Linked DNA regions of Homo sapiens: regions 1 and 2 are each linked to region 3. A link means that fine-mapping ties the variant in region 3 to the plasma level of a protein whose gene starts in the linked region. Region 3 holds a variant in brackets. A gene starts in each other region. All regions are shown on their reverse strands.

Region 1 (2,756 bases), not on the chromosome of region 3:
AGTCACGGCCCAGCTCCTGTGTTTTGGTCAACAGGTCACCCTGTCAGGAAAGAAAGCCCTTATGATGGTCTCTCAGACACTCTGGGAGCGCGTGAAAGTGCCCAGGAAAGGGGCCCTTTGTGTTTCTGAGGCCGGCAGGAATGTCCGTGATCTCTTCCCAGAGCGTGGATACACTGAAGGCCTGAACTGGCTGCCTGGCCCCTGCCCACCCTTTTGCTTGTCTTAGAGGCTCTGAGACACCCCAGAAACAGCCTCCCACACCCCCAGTACTTTCCCAGCCCTGCACTTGCCCCTCTCCTATTGAGGAACTCCCAGGGGAGTCTGCCTATTTGGGTTCTGCAGCCCCAGGCTCCTTGGAGGGTGAGACCCCAGAGGATCCTCCTGGAGGAGTCTGCCAGATACCTGTAGCCCTCCTGGCCAGACATGAATTCAACAAAACCAGCATCGTCAGAAACAGCCCAGCCTCCACTCCCACCTCCTGACCATTAGAGAGCTCCAGACCTCACCCCAGGAGCCACCAGGGAGGAGGGAAAGGAGAGGGACTGTGGCAGGTGAGCAGAGAGCCAACACGTACCTGGGGGCCCTCCTGGGCCAGGCACGGGCAGGATTTCTCCTCATCACGCAGGTGGGCTCTTGCCAGGTCGTAGTACTCAGGGCTCAGACGAGAGAAGACCAGACCTGAGGAAGACCAGACTTCAGCTTCCCCTCCGCAGGCGGAAGGAGAGGGAAAGCCCGTTCTCCTGGCTGGTGGGAGTCCAGGAGGTGACCAGGGCCTAGGACAGGAGCTGGGCCTTGCAGGGGGCCAGGATACCTGTCCACATGCTTTGCCCTGGAGCCGCTCTGACCCACTCTCAGCACAAACACGTGTTCTCACGTTCCTTCTAGAAAGCCAGGAGGGCGAGACTCTCTCTTCTCCTCTGTTCCCCCAGCAACACAGATTTGGGGGTCGGTTTGTCTAGAAACTTCCCTCAATCTCCTTTCAAGGGATTTTCTTTTTTTACCTTCCATCCAGATGGCCCAGCCAAATCCACTCTCCCTTCCAGAAGTGTTCTTGCCCTTGGGGCTCACACTGACCTCAAGGCCTGGGAGAGAGCAGGGTGCAGGGGGCAGGAAGTCTGCCTTGAACACAGAAGAGATCTTGTTCTCTCACCAGCCCCGCACAATCCTAGACAGTGTAGGCCCGAGGAAACGCAGATCCACCGATGAGGGCCAATGGCCTTCACCACGCAGATGCGGAGGCAGGGGCTTGGGAGGGAAAGGGGGGTCTCAGGCCACACAGTGTGGCCAGTAGAGTTAGGACCAGAATCCCTGGCCTGTCTCTCCTCCTTGGCCAGGCCAGTGACAGGCTGGGCAGCACACTGGACTAAGCCTGGCTCTGAGGGGAGGCCAGGCCTCCATGACGGGGGAGAAGGCCGGGGGGAGGCAGGGGCACCTGGGTGCCCACAGAGTCCAAGCTCCAGGTTCAGCCAGCCTGAGAGTGCGAGGCTGGGTGGGCCATCAGGATCGATCCCGAGGGGAAGGCCTTACCTGGGTTGCCCAGGAGCATGGCTGCAAGGAGCAGGAGGGCCCAGGTAGCCATGGTGGGGCAGCCGCTGAGATGCCTTTCACACCCTGTTTTATGGGCAGGGAGCCTGCAGCTTAATCTTTCTCAGGTCCTGCCCTTTTTGTATGTCATCTCCCCCGTGTCACTGGGTTTACCACAGATACAAATACCAGTGTGTGAAGAAGCAGCTCAGGGCAGTGGTAGCCCACAGGGTCCATGCCACACCCCACTCCCACACAACTAGAATGTGGGGTTGCTGGAGGCCAGCAGCTGCCAGGATGCCTGGGATGTGCCGATGGAGGGAGAAACCCCTTAGTACAAGTACGTTCCAGATATTGCATGGGACATACTTATACTAAAAGTATAAGTGAGTCATCTCACTTGACCCAAAAACTATTTTTAAACAGCTTTTTAATTTAACAATATACCACGAACATCTTTCCACATTTGTAAATGTAGATCTTCTTCATCATTTCCCCTGGTTGCCTAATGGTTCCCTTTACACATGAACCATAGCTGGGGTCCTGTAACTCTGGGACTCGTGTCCCCTGTGGTACTTCGGCTTGAAGAGCAGAGGCTGGGAAGCCTCTCCAAGGGCTCACCCAGTAGTCAAGTTGAGTGATGTGAGGGCCTTCTTCAGACAGGGTGCCTCAGCATCTCAAAAAGGCAGCTGTAGCTCCTCCAGGCTACAAGGCCTGTTCACGTGGAAAATGGAAAGAGTGAAGCTGAAAGAGGTGGTACCTGTATAGGAAAAACATCTTTCCCAGGGACCCTCAGCCTCCATCTCATTGATCTGAACTGTGTCACATGATGACCCTGGCTGCAAAGGGCAATAGGAAGGGAGTCTTTTGCTGGACCTTCACTGACACTTTGCTTTTTGTTGTTGTTGTTTGTTTTTGTTTTGTTTTTCTTTTTTGAGACAGAGTTTCACTCTTGTCACCCAAGCTGAAGTGCAGTGGTGTGATCTTGGCTGATTGCAACCTCCACCTCCGGGTTCAAGTGATTCTCCTGTCTCAGCCTCCTGAGTAGCTGGGATTACAGGTGCACGCCACCATGCCCTGCTAATTTGTGTGTTTTTAGTAGAGACAGGGTTTCACCATGTTGGCCAGGCTGGTCTTGAACTCCTGACCTCAGGTGATCCGCCTGCCTCGGCCTCCCAAAGTGTTAGGATTACAGGCATCAGCCACCGCACCTGGCCTTCATTGACACTTCG
Region 2 (2,756 bases), not on the chromosome of region 3:
AAACACACTGCTTATGGTAACAGTCAGTCTGTGGGAGACAGGTTAAAAAGTGATATTTTCCCTTCCTACTTTCCAAATTTTCTTAACAAACATATATTATGACTATAATCAGAAAAAATTATTTTTAAAACGTCTACTATGGGGCAAGCTAGGTTCAAAAAATAGAAGTTTGATAAATGTAGTTGGCTTGCTATTGACAAGGAAGACGTTTACACTGGAATTCTATATTTTGAGATATACCATTCCTCATAGAAAAATTTCCTCACAGAAAATATAAAGGTGGAAACAAATCACAAGAATCGAACCATGTAGAGAGACTTAGTTGTCTTTTAACAGAATTGGGCACGGGCTGTTCAGAAACAACAATCTTTCACATCCATTATAATGATAGCATTAGTGTAGTTTGTTTAGCAAATGTTTACTGTGAGCCTGTTATGTGCTGAGCCTGCTATGTAAGAAGTGTGGCTCTCTGGACAGGAGACAGAATACTAAACAACACAACTACTGATCTTTGGCTGCCTGGCATGCTTCCTCACTTCATATGGTATCAGCAATTTAGCACCACAAACGTCCTTTAGAGAACCAGCCCTTTCTCATTCTTGGTTCTAGTGGCTTGAGTAGACTGACCCCAGCCTACCCAAAGTGGATTTGACTCCTAGCAATTCATTAATCTAGCCCAATAAAATGTCAAGTACAGGACTTTTATTGAAAGCATTCAGAAAAGAGGTGGACTCTCACACTAAACATTTGTAACTAAATAAGGGATGTTAGAAATTCTCTAGAAAGGAAGCTATGATAATAAATGGGTTGCTAGATGGGTCTAGTAGATGGTGGCCATGCTTTGTTACTGCCTTGTGTATTGTGCTACCATAGCCCTCCCCAAACTGTACTCTGGCTCCTGGCATTTCCGTCTCTTCAACCAGATGGTCAGCTCTCTAAGTGAAGGAGACACATCTCCAACATGCTTGGTTCTAGCACAACAGAAGGGCTCAAACACATACCTGCTAAAGAAACTATCCTGATGGATTTAGCAGCATGGCCATGAGGCATTGGCGGTTCTATCACTGGGAACTCAGGTTTCTGGTGCTCCAGTACCTCTACTGGCTGATACCACATCCTACAATTCACTTCATAGGCTTGGGTTCCTGCTCTGGGCTGAATAGGTGGTCCACTCTGAGTCATCAGCTGTGGGTGATGATGTGGTCACTGCATGATTCTCACACAAGCACCCAGAGGACGTCATCAGGCAGAGGCAGTGGGGGTGGGCAGCATTTACAGAAAATCTGTGATGAGACACCACAAAACCAGAGGGGAACATGAAGTCACTGAGCCTGCTCCACCTCTTTCCTCTCCCAAGAGCTAAAAGAGAGCAAGGAGGAAACAACAGCAGCTCCAACCAGGGCAGCCTTCCTGAGAAGATGCAACCAATCCTGCTTCTGCTGGCCTTCCTCCTGCTGCCCAGGGCAGATGCAGGTGAGTGACCGTCTCCACCCTCGGGGGCCCAACCCCATCCCACAGGTCTCCTGCCCTTTCTCCACATTCCTGATCCATCTATCTACCAGGAATGTTCTGAACTCCAGCTCCCATTCTACCAAGACCCCCCAAGTGTGATGCTGGATAAGCTATCAGCAGGAATGGCAGAGCAGCAGGCCATTCTCAAGAAGAGCCAGTGGGTACTATCCCTTCCCCAGAGCCCACCTTTGTCACCTGGAGAGTAGGACTTTCCTAGAAGTAAATGGCAGAGGATGGGAAACTAGAAAAGAGAAATATTAAATTATTCTAGAGTAGGCCTGGCTTCTGTTTCTGGGATAAGACAGGTGCTTCTCTCACTGTCTACTTAGGAGAGAAACCCAGAGCTCAGCTGACAGCAGAATTGGTACAATCACTGTCCTCAGAACACTGTTAATGTGTTTGCTCAGTCCCATTCTCCAACTCTGCTTTTCTTCCCTGGCCTTTGGTGGCTCCCCTCTTTCCAAGGATGAGGCACTACGGCAGGCCCCAGCTTCCCTGCTTTCTAGAATTCCACCAGCACTGCTCTACCAGCCCTCATCCAGAGGCTAACTGGAGCCAGTCCATCATGCAGCCATGAACATTTACTGGGCACCCACTACATGTCAGGCTCTAGGAAACAGGATATGACAGTATCTAGATCCCTCCACTTACACCCTGGCCATTAGAAAGCAGCACTATCCTAGACACCACAGGACTCATAAGGGTCTTGGAAACTCACCTGAAACAAAGCAAAGTCAGGAGAGGAATGATCAGGAGCCTCTGGGATTTCACTGTCCCTAAGACAGGTATGCTCGCCTTCAACTACATATGGAAGAAAGATTTACAGACCAAAGTCTGCTGTTCTTCCCTTTTTCAGAGCAGGAAATTGAAGCCCCTTCCTCCAGGCCACTCCCAACTCCAGGCTATCCCAGGCTCCCAAATGCCCAGGAGTTCTGGAGCCACTAAGCAGGTGCCCACCCAGCAGATTCCATGGGTGCCCACAAGCAGACAGACTTTTCCTTCAGGGGAGATCATCGGGGGACATGAGGCCAAGCCCCACTCCCGCCCCTACATGGCTTATCTTATGATCTGGGATCAGAAGTCTCTGAAGAGGTGCGGTGGCTTCCTGATACGAGACGACTTCGTGCTGACAGCTGCTCACTGTTGGGGAAGGTGAGGAGCAGAAAACAGCCCACACCCTCCTGGAAACACTCCACAGAGACCCCTGCCTTCTTCCCAAGGAGCTCCCTGGGCTCCTGTGAACA
Region 3 (2,731 bases):
CAAAAAACCTGATCTGTATCAGTGCAAAGTTTGCCTATGTTGAATCACTGGGTAGCAGAAAACATTTCTTATTTCACAAATGAGACAAACAAGGCTTAAAGAGTGAAAACAAACTGCCTAGGGTCACCCAACCAAGGAGTAAAGAACTGTGACTTGAACCCTGATTCTCTGCCACCAAGCCCAATGAGAAAGGCTTACAACTAGTGGTAGGAAGGATGATTTTCAGTGGTTCTCAACACAAATATGAAAAACAGAAAGGGGATGCAAGTGACTCAAGTTTGGAAAACTGCACACGCCCCTCTGCTATTCTAACTGAAAGATGAAATTAATAGTAAGCAGGGCATTAATCACTGATCTCTTCCTAATTCAGATACTTAATTTTTCTTGTCTTCTTTGATTAGCTCCTCCAATAGAATAA[T/C]AGAATACTGAATAGAGCCATAACTGATAATAGCTTTATCTTTTTTTTTTTTTTTTTGAGACGAAGTCTCACTCTGTCGCCCAGGCTGGAGTGCAGTGACTTGATCTTGGCTCACTCCAACCTTTGCCTCCCCGGTTCAAGCGATTCTCATGCCTCAGCCTCCCGAATAGCTGGGCCCACCACCATGCCTGGCTAATTTTTCTATTTTTAGTAGAGACAGGGTTTCACCATGTTGGCCAGGCTGGTCTCGAACTCCTGGCCTCAAGTGATCTCCCCATCTCGGCATCCCAAAATGCTACAGGTGTGAGTCACCTCACCCGGCCCGATAGTAGCTTATTCTAAGTTTAATACTGTTCTAAAGTTTCACCGTTAAGTATCATGTTTTACAGATTATTCATGGATGCACTTTTTTTGAGTTTATGGAAATTCCTTCCTATTCCTCACTCAGTAAAAATTTTTTTTAACTCATCTCTGGCCCACTTGTTTCCCTTCTCCATGCTGTTTTCCACCCACCACCCTTCCTTTCTTTCTTTTTTTTTTTTTTTTTTGAGATGGAGTCTTACTCTGTTGCCCAGGCTGGAGTACAGTGGCGCAATCTCCGCACACCACAACCTCTGCCTCCCGGGTTCAAGCAATTCTCCTGCCTCAGCCTCCCGAGTAGCTGGGACTACAGGCACGCGCCACCACGCCCAGCTAATTTTTGTATTTTTAGTAGAGATGGGGTTTCACCATGTTGGCCAGGATGGTCTCGATCTCCTGACCTCGTGATCTGCCCACCTCAGCCTCCCAAAGTGCTGGGATTACAGGCGTGAGCCACCGCGCCCGGCCTCCTTCCTTTCTTGTATTTCAGGTTCCTTCCTACATTCTACGCATCTCAAAGTACTATATCTGCCACTCAAAGTAACCGAAACGCTTTGATATTTTGGGGGTTCTATACCTGTCTGCTGTTTCAGTTCCCTGGACCAAAAAAAAAAAAAAAAAAAAAATCGAAAATTGACAATTGAAAGAAAATCCTAAGGCAAACACTGTTCCAGTCATTACTGAAGACTGCAGAGGTAAATGCAGATTATTTCTTCTCTCCATCTCTTTTGTTTGAGACAGGGTCTTGCTCTGTCGCCCAGGCTGGAATGCAGTGGTGCGACGTGGCTCACTGCAGCCTCGACCTCCCGGGCTCAAGCAGTTCTCCCACCGCAGCCTCCAGAGTAGTACAGGCGCGTAACATCGCTCCCAGCTAATTTTTGAATTTTTTTGTAGAGACAGGGTTTCGCCATCTTGTTCAGGCTGGACTCAAGTAATCCTCCCACCTCGGCCTCCGAAAGTGCTGCGATTACAGGCATGAGCCACCGCGCCCAGCCCTTCTCTATCTCTTAAACACATCCTGAAATGTCCTTTCTTTAAAGTAAAAACTCGGGGAAAAAAAAGAACCCAATAGTTCTAGATGACCATTTACTTTCCGGTATGTTGCCTAGCTCTGAATGAGCCTGGCTTTTTAAGTGGCTGGAAGAAGCTCAAAGTGTTTTTTTTAAGTTTTGAGGGAAGGAGCTGGATCCAGATGTTTATAACTTCGACTCTCTCCTTTGCTAAAATAAAAAGTATTAAAGAGAAAAGCAAAGGAAGAGGGGTAGTATGTGTAAGCAAATAAATTCCACACATGAAAGCTGAAGACACAAGGGAAAACCAACCCTTTAAAGCCCAAGCAAGTTAAGAATTCTCTCCCTCAATTTCTTTCAAAACAAAAGGGCACACACAATCCTTCCCGAAGCAGCAACGCCGGGGGGAGAAGCCAAAATGTTGCATCATACAGAACACTCCGCGCTTGAGAAACGAGAAAGCCAGTAAATGCCCAAGACAGAAAAACACAAGTTGGGAATCTCGGTCTTTTCCGAAGGTCCAAGAGCACCTGCTCTTTGGTAAATTTGTTTAAGATTGCATCGAAAATTAAAGTTTCCGTTTCAGACCAGTGGGGAGCAAATGCTTTTTCAAAAACGCGTTCAAAGAAGTTCGTTTGAAAGCTCATCGGGCGGCGGGCCGCAGTTCGGGCTCCGGGCGGCGGACCGGAGCGCTGGGGAGCGGGTGGGGCCGGGCCCCGGCGCCCGGGCGGGGGGTGGTGACAGGACCCGCGCGCGCCCGGCGCTGGGGCCCCGGGGCAGGCAAGTCCCGCCCGTGGGCTCTTCCCGACCCACCCGGGCGCGGGACGCTGGTCTGGCGTCCGCCGATGCCTACGCGCTGGAGACGGTGGCCGCCGCCCGGGTCCCCAACCCGGACCCCTCGACGGGCCCTCGGAGGCGGGAAGGCGCGGGCGGCCCCCAGACA

Alleles and levels. Positions count from the first base shown, and alleles are read on the strand shown. Strength reflects both the effect of a copy and how common the allele is.
For the plasma level of the protein whose gene starts at base 1,640 in region 1, allele T in region 3 goes with a higher level than allele C (moderate association).
In carriers of allele T in region 3, the plasma level of the protein whose gene starts at base 1,389 in region 2 tends to be higher than with C alone (weak association).

Evidence for each region. PIP is the chance, under the fine-mapping model, that this variant and not a neighbour inherited with it causes the effect. The UK Biobank Pharma Proteomics Project read protein levels with antibody pairs (Olink). The fine-mapping took linkage between variants from a reference panel, not from the people measured, so its PIPs are less certain.
Region 1: GNLY starts here. The variant in region 3 is fine-mapped to the plasma level of the GNLY protein (UK Biobank, PIP above 0.99).
Region 2: it holds the start of GZMB, and the variant in region 3 is fine-mapped to the plasma level of the GZMB protein (UK Biobank, PIP 0.96).

What each region holds. Positions count from the first base shown.
Region 1 is chr2:85,693,242-85,695,997 of GRCh38, reverse strand. GNLY (granulysin) reads right to left here and starts at 1,640. Exons shown (of 5, transcript NM_006433.5): 1 at 1,528-1,640; 2 at 575-678; 3 at 1-40. The coding sequence starts at 1,579.
Region 2 is chr14:24,632,823-24,635,578 of GRCh38, reverse strand. It overlaps GZMB (granzyme B), which reads left to right and starts at 1,389. Exons shown (of 5, transcript NM_004131.6): 1 at 1,389-1,473; 2 at 2,517-2,664. The coding sequence starts at 1,419. GZMH-AS1 (GZMH and GMZB antisense RNA 1) reads right to left here and starts at 2,477. Exons shown (of 3, transcript XR_007064087.1): 1 at 2,231-2,477; 2 at 1-1,283. RefSeq lists an enhancer at 811-2,010.
Region 3 is chr1:24,745,769-24,748,499 of GRCh38, reverse strand. All of the region lies in intron 1 of CLIC4 (chloride intracellular channel 4), which reads right to left. Among named protein-coding and RNA genes, the nearest start is that of CLIC4, 1.7 kb to the right of the region's middle. RefSeq lists a silencer at 2,482-2,641 and an enhancer at 2,533-2,731. The variant T/C (reference allele first, on the strand shown) is at 419.